Linked DNA regions of Homo sapiens: region 2 is linked to region 1. The links come from fine-mapping of genetic effects on gene expression. A gene starts in region 1. The other region holds a variant in brackets. All regions are shown on one strand. Distances are from middle to middle.

Region 1 (5,389 bases):
GCTGCTGCTTTTCCTGCATGTGCCTGCAGATATGTAATGTCACACAGACATTACGGGCATTCACTGGGGACTTGCTGAATGAGTATATTAGGCAGATCCTTTATAGCACAGGTGGTCCACTCTAGGAAAAGCCCTGCCACCTCAAAATGTCTCCAAGGTAACTTGTGCCCAGAATGTGCCCATGGAGTATTAACTTTAGGGTTTACATTTTTCTCCCTAATTCCTACACAAAGTCTGTGAATGAACACAATACCTTCTCTTCATGAATTTATAAAGGCCACCCTTGTCCTAGTTCCTAGCAAAGGCACATCTTCGATGAGTACTATTTCCCTTTTGATGATATGCAGGCAACCCTGGAAGAAGTGGCATTTTACACTGTCCAACAGGAATTAGATAAAAATCTGGAGAAATTTGTGGAGCAGATTGTTGTACCAGGAGAGAGCACATAGAAAATTAAATAAGTTAATATTTGAAAAGCACATAGTCAACACTATATAAGTCTTTTTAAATGGAGAAACAAAGTGTTACTGCTGTTATTGTTATTATTAGACATTAAAACATTATGCAGACTAGAACATTATTGCTTAAACTACCGAAGTTCTGATATTTCAAAGAGAAAATGTTTTACATTTTGGAAGTCTCCAAAATATAACATGGAAGTACTCTTGGCTTGAGGTTTATTCTATTTAACACCTTTCAATAGGGCAACATCTGGATGTTATCAAGGCTTGGCAAGATGAGATGCCAAAATTACAAATTCTGGAAATGCTGTGCATTAGGCACTCTTGTCTTTGCCTGTAATTGCCTTAAAGATATAAAAGAGCCTGATTGTAATAACTCCCCTAGTGTAACTATTCTTCATTTCTATTCCACAAGAGAAGATAGCAGGAAGTAATATCACTCTAAGGGTATGAGTACGGAGAGAAGGAGCTAATCCTTAAATATGTGTGCCCTGCATCTCAAATAAGCCCTGAACAACAGTGTGAAAGGATTACGGGTAATCTTATATATATCCCTTAACCTATTAACTGGAATAATTGTTGCACTAAGATAAGACGCCCCTAAGTATTCCAGGCTAGGTGGCCCTAGGTCAGAAAGCATTTATTATTTATTTCCTAAAGTCCTGTTCTCCAGTGATAGGGACGGAAATTTGGCAGACTGGGTCTCCCCTTGTCAAGCAAGTGAAATGGTTGTTTCATTTTTAATCTGGATCCTTTGCCCTGACAGATAAATCTGAAGAGTGCTGTTAAGAATGTGATGAATTGGGCTTCTGGTGATGTCTGTGGGAAAGGGAGCAAGATACAGCAGCCTGGAACTACTTTCATTGCACACAATTGCAGGTCTTTTAAAATGGTAGAGCCAACCATTGCCGAGAAGACTTAAGCAAGGAGAAAAGTTTGTCTCAAACATGCCTTGAATTCTGTCAGTGCACTTCATCTCTCATTTCAGGGAATGTGTTGAGGGTCTTTGGATTGAGCTGGAATGATGGAGAACACTTGAGTACTATTGTGTCTGAGTTAGTTTTGCCCCTGGGTACCATGACACTTTGTGAGCAGAGAAATGGGTGCTTCTGTGTTACAGTTCAACAGCTCTAGCTGGAGGTGAGCTGTGTAACACAGAGAGGGTAAGGCATGTCTGAGTCACTCTTGGTACCACGTGGCTAGGTACCATGCTGCCAAGCATAAAGATAAGCAGCAGTTTAATCCTTATTTGAGTAATCTGACCTGAGGAGATAGCCAAACTGTGTGATTACCATTCCCAACTAGACTTTTGAGATGGGCAGATCACCTGAGGTCACGAGTTCGAGGCCAGCCTGCCTAACATGGTGAAACCCCGTCTCTACTAAAAATACGAAAATTAGCTGGGCATGGTGGTGGGCTCCTGTAATCCCAGTTACTTAGGAGGCTGAGGCAGGAGAATCGCTTGAACCCAGGAGGCGGAGGTTGCAGTGAGCCGAGATCACACCATTGCACTCCAGCCTGGGCAACAGAGTGAGACCTTGTAAAAAAGAAAAAAAAAGAAAGAAAATAAAGAAAGAACAAAAGTGGTAAAGCAGTCAGGGTTTGGTCAGGAGACAGAAATCACAATAGTATAGTCATGAGCCGCATAATGACATTTCTGTCCAACACAGACTGCCTATATGATGGTGGTCCCATAGATTACAACACTGTTTTTACTGTACCTTTTCTATGTTTAGGTATGTTTGTATATACAAATACCATTGTGTTACAATTACCTACCACATTCAGTACAGTAACATTCTGTACAGGTTTGTAGCCTAGAAGCAATAGACTATGCCATATGGCCTAGGGTTGTAATAGGCTATACTATCATCTAGGTTTGTGTAAGTACATGCCATGATGTTCACACAATGATGAAATTGCCTAACAACACATTTCTCAGAACATATCCCCATCATTAAGTGAGACATGACTAATAGTTTGGACAGGGAAAACTTAATACCACATAAAAATAAGGAACTAATTAAAGGGTATTATCTACTAAGAAGTATAAAGGGAATTCTCAAGAAAACTGGGGTAAGACGCAGGGAGCAGTCACTAGGCATAGGGCTGAAAGACAGTATTCAAAGAAAGTATAACCTTGAAGGAAGTCCTTCCAGTTCAGTTTCAAGGCTGTGATTCATTTAATGTGGTCTAGTAGATGTCAGAGAAGTCCACTGAAGTGATGCAGGATGGGCTGCCGAGCAGGAAGCCACCTGTTGTGGTGAGGGTGAAACTCTTTGGAGGGTTTGTGTCATCAGGTCTTCTGCATGCCCCTACCAAGGGAGCTGCTGGTTGGCAAGGAGACAGCTCATTGTTTTCTAAGAACAGAGCTGGAACCAGAAGAGAAGCCCCTTCCTTGTGCAGTGTCCCTCTAGCGCCCTCTACTGACAAGGTCTAACATTGTGCCCGCTAACGAAAGAAATTAGGTCCAGCTCCAGTTATCATAATGTAGGGCAGAAAAGGGCATATGTGGGGTTCAGAGACAGTAAATTGGAACAGGCATAGGTGGGGAAGTAAAGGTTGTCTTAGAGAGGGGAGAGGAGGTTGGAGTGGGTGGAGCTGCGGATAAATTAGGATGAGACTAAGCGATGCACAGACCATGGTCCTGAAGTGTGGCTGAAAGAGTGGGGATGGAAAGGAGGGGGAATTAGAAGAATACTCAGGGGATGTAATAAATAGGTCTCTGTGGCGGATGAGCCAGAGACGGGCCAGAGGGAAGTGGCAGGCATGCTCCCTATGTTTGGTGGCTTTCCTATCTGAGAAAAATGGCAGGTTTGGGCTTCAAGGAAGATAATGAATTGTTTGGACTTCTCAATTTATGGTACCTGTAGACTATCCTAAAATTCAGAATTTCCTGGAAAAAGCACAACAGATTCAAATATTCAAATACCCAAATATGTAGTGGAGCTATAGAGTTCCACAACTGATACAAAACTCACATGCAAAGAAAAGGAATGAAAAACAAATTTCCACCTTAAGAAGAAATTCAACAAAATTTATTTTCAGAAATAAACTTCCTTCAAATTTATAAAAATCTAATGAATTTCCATTCAAGCTTGGAGCTGCAGTACTTTTTTATAATATGGGAAGTTGTAATTTAATTTTTTAAAAGATTGAGAGGTGGGATTTCACTATGTTGCCCAGGCTGGACTTGAACTCCTGGGCTCAAGGGATGCTCCCATCAACTTCTGGAGTAGCTGGGATTACAGGTGTGCACAGAAACTGTAATTTGAATAAAGATCACCATTAAAGTTCAGTGTATTTGTGCGTGTGTTTCTGTGTTTGGAGTTTTGTTGTTGTTTTGTACAGAAAGAAACTTAAAAATCTGTATATAATTTCCAACTGAATGAACTTTCTATATTAAACAGAGTAGAAAATATAATATTTTTACAGGCTGTTACATTTTATTGCAGGCCAAAAGCTGTCTCACTCTTTCTGTATATATACACATATACCCAAAGGAAGGAGGTGGAGCTAATGGGCTGAGAAGTCAAAAAACAAAACAAAACAAGTGTAATTTTTCCTTAGCGCTCATTTCTCGAACCACACATTGTAGCACTTGGTTGTATTTTGTATTTTTCTATTTTGTGTCCAGTTGCTTTCTGTATATAAGTCCTGCTTCCTCTTTCATACTTATTCCTAGAGGGCAGGACAGATACCACATGCTATTTATTCTTCACAATTTAATAAGAACTTATCAATAAAGAATTCATTTTTATTGTTCAACACAGGCTTACTAAGCATCATTCTGAGCCAACACATGCCTAGGTGATCCTTGGAACAAGCATGAAAAACACACAGTTCCTGTCCTTGAGGAACTCATGATTTAAATGAAGAAAAATGTAAATGAGACCATTTTGATAAAATATAGTTGGATGCTTAAAGTGATAATCCATTCTTTGGTCAGACTCTTGAATTTTGAATGGATCTTTGAAATAAGGATCCAGGAAGTACCATCCATTCTTTCCACCAAAGTTTGTGAGTTTACTGGGTATCAGACACAGTGTGGGATAATCAGAACTCCAGTAGTATTTATATGTAAAAATCAAATGAATGTTCCCATATTATATGGAATTGTACTGGAGAGGACATCAGAACAGTCTAAAGCTTTATAAACTTGACAAGAACGCTGGGAAGAATAACGAGTTAATCTTCCACAAAATGCTTTGAACACAGAAAGTACCAACATAAGTGCTAATTATTATTATTAGCCCCAAGACCTTTTTCCCTGTACTGTTAGATCCATCATAAAATTGCTTAACTTCAAGGGAAAGTATTGTTCTTTACATGAGCACTTTTTGTGAAGTCAAATGTTAATATATGCATTTATGGAAAAAACACATCTTTCATTATTCTTTTTATCCTCCCTAGAGGGAAGACATTGTGTCATTTATCTACTCTGTAAGGTCCCTAGCAAAGCAATGTGCATTTTGTTGCTCTATGTTGGCAATGGCTGGCTTGCCTTAAGAAGAAGCAAAATGTATATTTAGAATCTTATCTGGGGCCAGGCATGGTGGCATGCATCTGTAGTCCCAGGTACTGGGGAGGCTGTGGTGGGAGGATCACCTGAGCCCCTGGGAAATCGAGGCTGCGGTGAGCTGTGATCTCATCACTGCACTCCAACCTTGGTGATGAAGCGAGACCCTGTCTCAAAACAAACAAAAAAAATCCAACAACAACAGAAAAAACCCCAAAGAATCTTAGCTAGGACTACAAACTAGTGAGATTTAAAAATAACAGAACTTAGATAAACTAAAAATATTTGCATTTTAAAGTGGTTACCGGGGAGACTATAGAGTCTACATTATCAGAGATCTGTCATCACTCCAAATATTTTGGTTCTTGTCATCTGGAATTGCTTTCAAAACCACTTGTGAAAACCATAT
Region 2 (5,389 bases), 230 kb after region 1:
TGTCATTTGTTCTTCTGATTCCCCCAAGAAAGAAAGATTAGACTTATGTATATATTTGCACACTCCAGAGAAGAGAAATTATCTCTCTCAGGAACATGAAATAACCCCAAACATAATTAATTTGTTTATGTTTTCCTGGAGTTGGAGTCTCCATCTGAGTTTTTGTTATAAGATGGAGAAGGGGGCTATAGAGCTGTGCTAATTCCTTCTGAATTATTGTGGGTATTTTCACTTTAATCGAGCTGAACTCACATTTTGGCATGTTAAGAGGGGTAATTGCTTAATGACAACTTAGGAACTTCAAAAGTAGAGTATTGATTAAAGTATGGTACATTCATAGATTGAAATAATATGCAGCCATTAATAGGAATGTTGTAGATAAATATTTAATAACATGGAAAAATGTCTGTATTAACTTAAATCAGTAGGTTATTTAATAACATACATTGTGTAACAGTAATGTATGTGTGCATATAGTAAAGTTATATTACATAAAATTAAGTCATCTATTAATTAGGAAATCACTTATAGTGAAAATTATGCTTAGAGGTATTTTAATTCACCCATAAATAATAATACACAGTTTTATGTATACACAAACTACTGAGTAATTCTTATACATTTTGAAATTTGAAAACCATTGGGTTAGACTAAAGGAAAGAATTAAAGGAAAGGCCTATATGTAGATTTTTGGAAATTCAAACCATTCTGTCTTTAAACTAGCTATCAGATCCCTAGAAATCCATTGAAGATGGCTGGGTCAAGAATTGTGAAATGTTCCTGCTTTTCTTCAAGAATGATTCCCCTCTTTCTATTATTAAGCCTCTAAATATTAATTCAGTTAAATAGAACAGTTTGCTATTATAGGAATTTAATGAGGTATGATGATTCATATTGAGAAAAGCAATAAATAGGTCCTGAAATCTGTACGCAAGTTAAATGCTAAAATGCATGAATAATTCAATTCATACTATGCTGGTGTGTGAGAATATGTATACTAAACCCTGTGAAAAAGTATCAAATTATTAACAATGATTAATTGTTATCATTTAGTAGTATATTTTGGGTCATTTTTATGTGCATTGCATATTTTTGCATTTTCTGAATTTTCTACCTGAATGTTTGTTTCTATGATAATTCTTTTATATATATATTTTTAAAAAACAAATGATTGTGATTCTCCCTCCTCCATCTTTCTCCTCCTCCTCCTTCTTCCTTCATAATTCTTTTGTATATATATTTTTAAAAAACAAATGACTGCGATTCTCCCTCCTGCATCTTTCTCCTCCTCCTCCTTCTTCTTCCTTAATTAGAGCTTCAGTCCTGAGTAAATCTAGGCAGTAAATAGGCCTTGGGCTTAAAATAATTTTTTTTCCTATTGTGTAACAATAAGAGAATTCATAGATTAGATATTTGTGGGTTGTATGCACTCTGCCTTGGGTGAAAGTCAGGACAACCCTAGCTATTGCCATGATCCAGGGTCCTAGGTGATGGCTCTCTTCTTTAGGGGCAGTATTTGAGGTCAGAATATAAAGAAAGGGCAAAAGGAATAAAATAAAATTAGTCCCAAACAATTGTACAAATAACCCCAAATATGGTGGTGTTTTGTCCTCTTCAAACTGAGTATAAGTTAACACCTTCACTGTGGTAGAACTGGAAACTTCTGAGCTCAGATCAAAGTTTCCCAAGGAGTGTCAAAATGCAATATAACTTATTGGGATTTCTAAAATTAGCTTTCAGTTGATAGTTGTTAAAATAAAGACCCTAGTTCTTGGTCCAACTAGTGGGTTATCTCTTTACATTGAAGATCCTATTTTTATTCTACCTCAGCCTTCATAATTAAAATTCTTTCAACAGATTTGCAAAGTATACCCATAAATATAAAATAATGTGATGGAATAATTAAGTCATACTTTGAAAAAACAGTATTATGAATCCAATGTATAGACAGTAAATAAGCCAATAACTTAAACTCAACTAGAACATTAATTAGAATATAAACCTTTGCTAAAAACAATAGATAACATTTATTGGGCACTACTTTGCATCTAACACTATGTTAGATGTCTTACATCTTAATGTGTGTTACTACCACACATTAATCCTGTGTGATAGTAACTTTTTTATCCCCATTACATAGATAAATAAACGGAGACTTATAGAATGTCTTAGTCCATTCCTGGTGCTATAACAAAGTACCCTAGACTGGGTAATTTATAATCAACAAAAATCTATTGCTCACAGTTCTGGAGGCTGGGAAGTCCAAGATCAAGGCACCACCAGAGTCAATATCCGGTGAGGGCCTGCTCTGTTTCAAACATGGAACTTTCTCACTGCGTCCTCACATGGCAGATGGGAGGGCAGATCCCTTTAACATCTTTTATAAGGGCACTAACCTCGTACTAATCACCTCCTAAAGGCTGACCTCTTAATACTGTTACACTGGGGGTTCAGTGCCAACATGTGAATGTGAGGGAGACTCCAACATTCAGACCACAGCGGAGAGTTTAAGTGACTTGGCAGGAAACTAAGCTGATAAAATATAGGGTCCAAATTCTGAAGTTCATACTCTTTCTGTTACTTTTTGAGACAAAATCTTTTATTTCTAGAGAACAAAGCCTTGAGGAGGCCCTAGATATTGGTATTTGGAGAATTATTTTAATAAAGAGATCAAGCAATGAGAAGTTTCTTGGAGGTACTGAATAAGAAATGAAGAAAAGGCCAAGAAGGTGGGAAAAAAGAGGGCTCAGAAAAGGAACTCAAGGAGGAGCTGGATAAGCTGGGAATGGGGGGAAAGCAGCATGTTGAGGGTAGAGGACAGGACGGGGTATGAAGGGGAATTCAAGAAATGGCTATGAAACAGAAGTGAAGGGCATCTAGAGTGGTATTTAAGTGCACCAATGTTGGAGAGCAGAGAGAAGCTACATAAAGCCCAAACTGGTGGTTACGAGCGAATTTATTGATAGAAGTAAAATCTCAAATTGCATGCTTAATGTCAATCTAGTTTACAGCTTTAGGTAATGTAAACTAAGGGTGACAAATTCAGAACAGATGGCAAGAAGCAAGTCTTACAGACAGCAAATTACAAATGCCTGTGAAATGGACATCCTGAAGGGACAGCACTCAAATCCACT[A/G]CCAGGGAACTTCACAATCCCTATCAGTGATTTACATGTGACAGTCATGGGTGGAGGCACCCACTAGCAAAGCTTCCTCCAGTTTTCATCAAGGAGAGTCTGTTCATTCCTTGATGTCATTTGCTGACTGCATTTTAGGGGTAGCAAAATAACCTCCTGTTAGGAACATTGTGGGACTGACTTTTAAAAACAGATGTACTGTGATAATCAAATGGCAAGTCCCTTCCCTCAATTTTCTCTCTGAATGTTTGCTTCTGCTTTGGAAAATTGTTTGGAAATGTTTGGGCAAGTACTATGTTATACATGTAGTGTTCAGTTTGACGGAACTGTTTGACTAAAATGAGAATTGGAGGAAAATCAGATTTGGAAAAGTTTTCTTCTCCAATCACCTCTCAAATCAATATTATAAGGTAACTATGTGCTTTAAAGATTTAAAGATTCTTTTGATAGTACGATACAGCACAATGACAAATTGGATAGATGAAAGGCAGAACACTTTACTACTTACAGCTCCAAAGGAGAGAAGGTTGCCATGAAGGGCCACACAGAGGATTGCTCCTGGAGATGGGGTAACAGCAAGTTGAAAATGTAGCAGGTGACTTATGTGTGGCAAGTGAGAGGAAGTTAGGTTCAGGGGCTTCCTGGGGATCAGCTAATTTGCATAATTCCCGGGAGTTGGGGCATAGATGCTGTCCCTGCTTGTTTGGTACCTGGCCCTGGGGAGGTTGGGATATGTGCCTAGTTGCTCTGGAGAGTGGACGTCTGATAAGAAAAGTGGTTGGGTTTTGGGCACAGCAAACTGCCTGCATGAGGAATTGAAGAGTTTTCAACCATGACTTCAGCACTGAGTCCAGACGGCACTTGTGAAATATTATATTATCCTATTATGACTGCTGAAGTGTGGCAGCTTGAACCTGCAGAAACAGTTGTTTTTCTTGTTCTTTCTGCTTTTGAATTCTACATATGTAGAATTAAGGGCACTAAGACCCTTTGTGGTAAGGGAGGTATTTATATTCTCTCTTAGGATTCCACACTTTTTCAAACTGCTCCATTTTTTTCAGTACTATATCATTTTTTTCAGTCTACAAGGGTAGAAATCATACTTGAATTGTTCACTGATCCTTCTTTCTGCAGCTGCTTGCCTGCTCTTCCCTAATTTATTTATGCCTTTCTATTCCTACAGGTGCTATCTTAACTCAGGTCTATATTATCTCATAATTATTTTAATAGCCTCTTTCAGCCACTTTCCTTTCCTCTAGTCCAGGGGTCACTAAACTATGGCCTGCAGGCCAAATCTAGGCCATTGCCTGCTTTTGGAAATAAATTTTTATTGGAACATTCCACTCATTTGTTTATGTATTGTCTGTGGCTGCTTTCATGTTACAAGGGCAGAATACAGTCATTGCAATAGAGCCTACAGCATGCAAAACCTGAAATATTTATGGTCTGCCTTTACAGAAAAAGTGTGTCAACCCTTGTGTCTTGTATAAGATACTAAATATCCATTCAAAATCCTGATCATGTCCATCCAGGAGGTAAGACGAGGAGAGGAAGGAACTACATTCATTGAGAACTCCATGTCAACTCTGGGCTGGACACTTTGTGTGAGTAAAGCCCAGGTCTATAAACTCAGGGGAGTAAATGATGTAACTTCCCTTCTTTTTTTTCCTAAAACTTAATGTAATTTCTATTATGAAACACCATCCTCTTGGATGTCAGAAACTTAAATCCCTGTTAGTTCAGTTAATTCAGTCTTTCCCTGTCTTCTTTCCCTGGGATTTTATCTGTTCTCTGGGTGAGGGGAAGTGCACAGTACAGAGATGTTGGATGGGCAGATCCCTGTCATCAGCCTCACTGTTGTCATGTAATTGTCACTCACCTATGAAGACCTGCTATATTGTTTCTTGTTCCCATCCTGAAAGTCCCATTGGATATGCCTGTCTTTGCATCTTTTCTGCCCCCTTGGGATTTACAGAAAATGTGATATATTTCCCACTTGGGGTTGTAGGACCTCTGGGAGGCTGTGGGAGGCCTCATCCGCTTCTGTGTCACAGTAGGTTCATTTGATGTTTCTATTACTTTTTGGCCACACCGAGCCACAGGGATGTAGTGAGAATTTTTAAGGTTCTTTCTTCTCTAGATACGTTTCAATAATTTCTTCTTAGGGGTTTGCTGCCTCATGAGAAATGAGGCATAGGCCTCCTTTACTCTCAAATCCCATAAACGTACACAGTGATTCTCCATTCTCCCCAGAG

Alleles and levels. Positions count from the first base shown, and alleles are read on the strand shown. Sizes are in standard deviations (SD) of each study's normalised expression.
As copies of A replace G in region 2, the expression in testis of the gene that starts at base 2,797 in region 1 goes up (moderate effect, 0.47 SD a copy in GTEx).

Evidence for each region. PIP is the estimated chance that this variant, and not a neighbour inherited with it, causes the effect.
Region 2: its variant is the best candidate, but not a certain one, in a credible set for the expression of LINC01065 in testis (GTEx, PIP 0.81).

What each region holds. Positions count from the first base shown.
Region 1 is chr13:53,149,104-53,154,492 of GRCh38, forward strand. LINC01065 (long intergenic non-protein coding RNA 1065) reads right to left here and starts at 2,797. Exons shown (of 5, transcript NR_125788.1): 1 at 2,601-2,797; 2 at 254-401.
Region 2 is chr13:53,382,840-53,388,228 of GRCh38, forward strand. No RefSeq gene overlaps it. Among named protein-coding and RNA genes, the nearest start is that of LINC01065, 230 kb to the left of the region's middle. The variant A/G (reference allele first, on the strand shown) is at 3,135.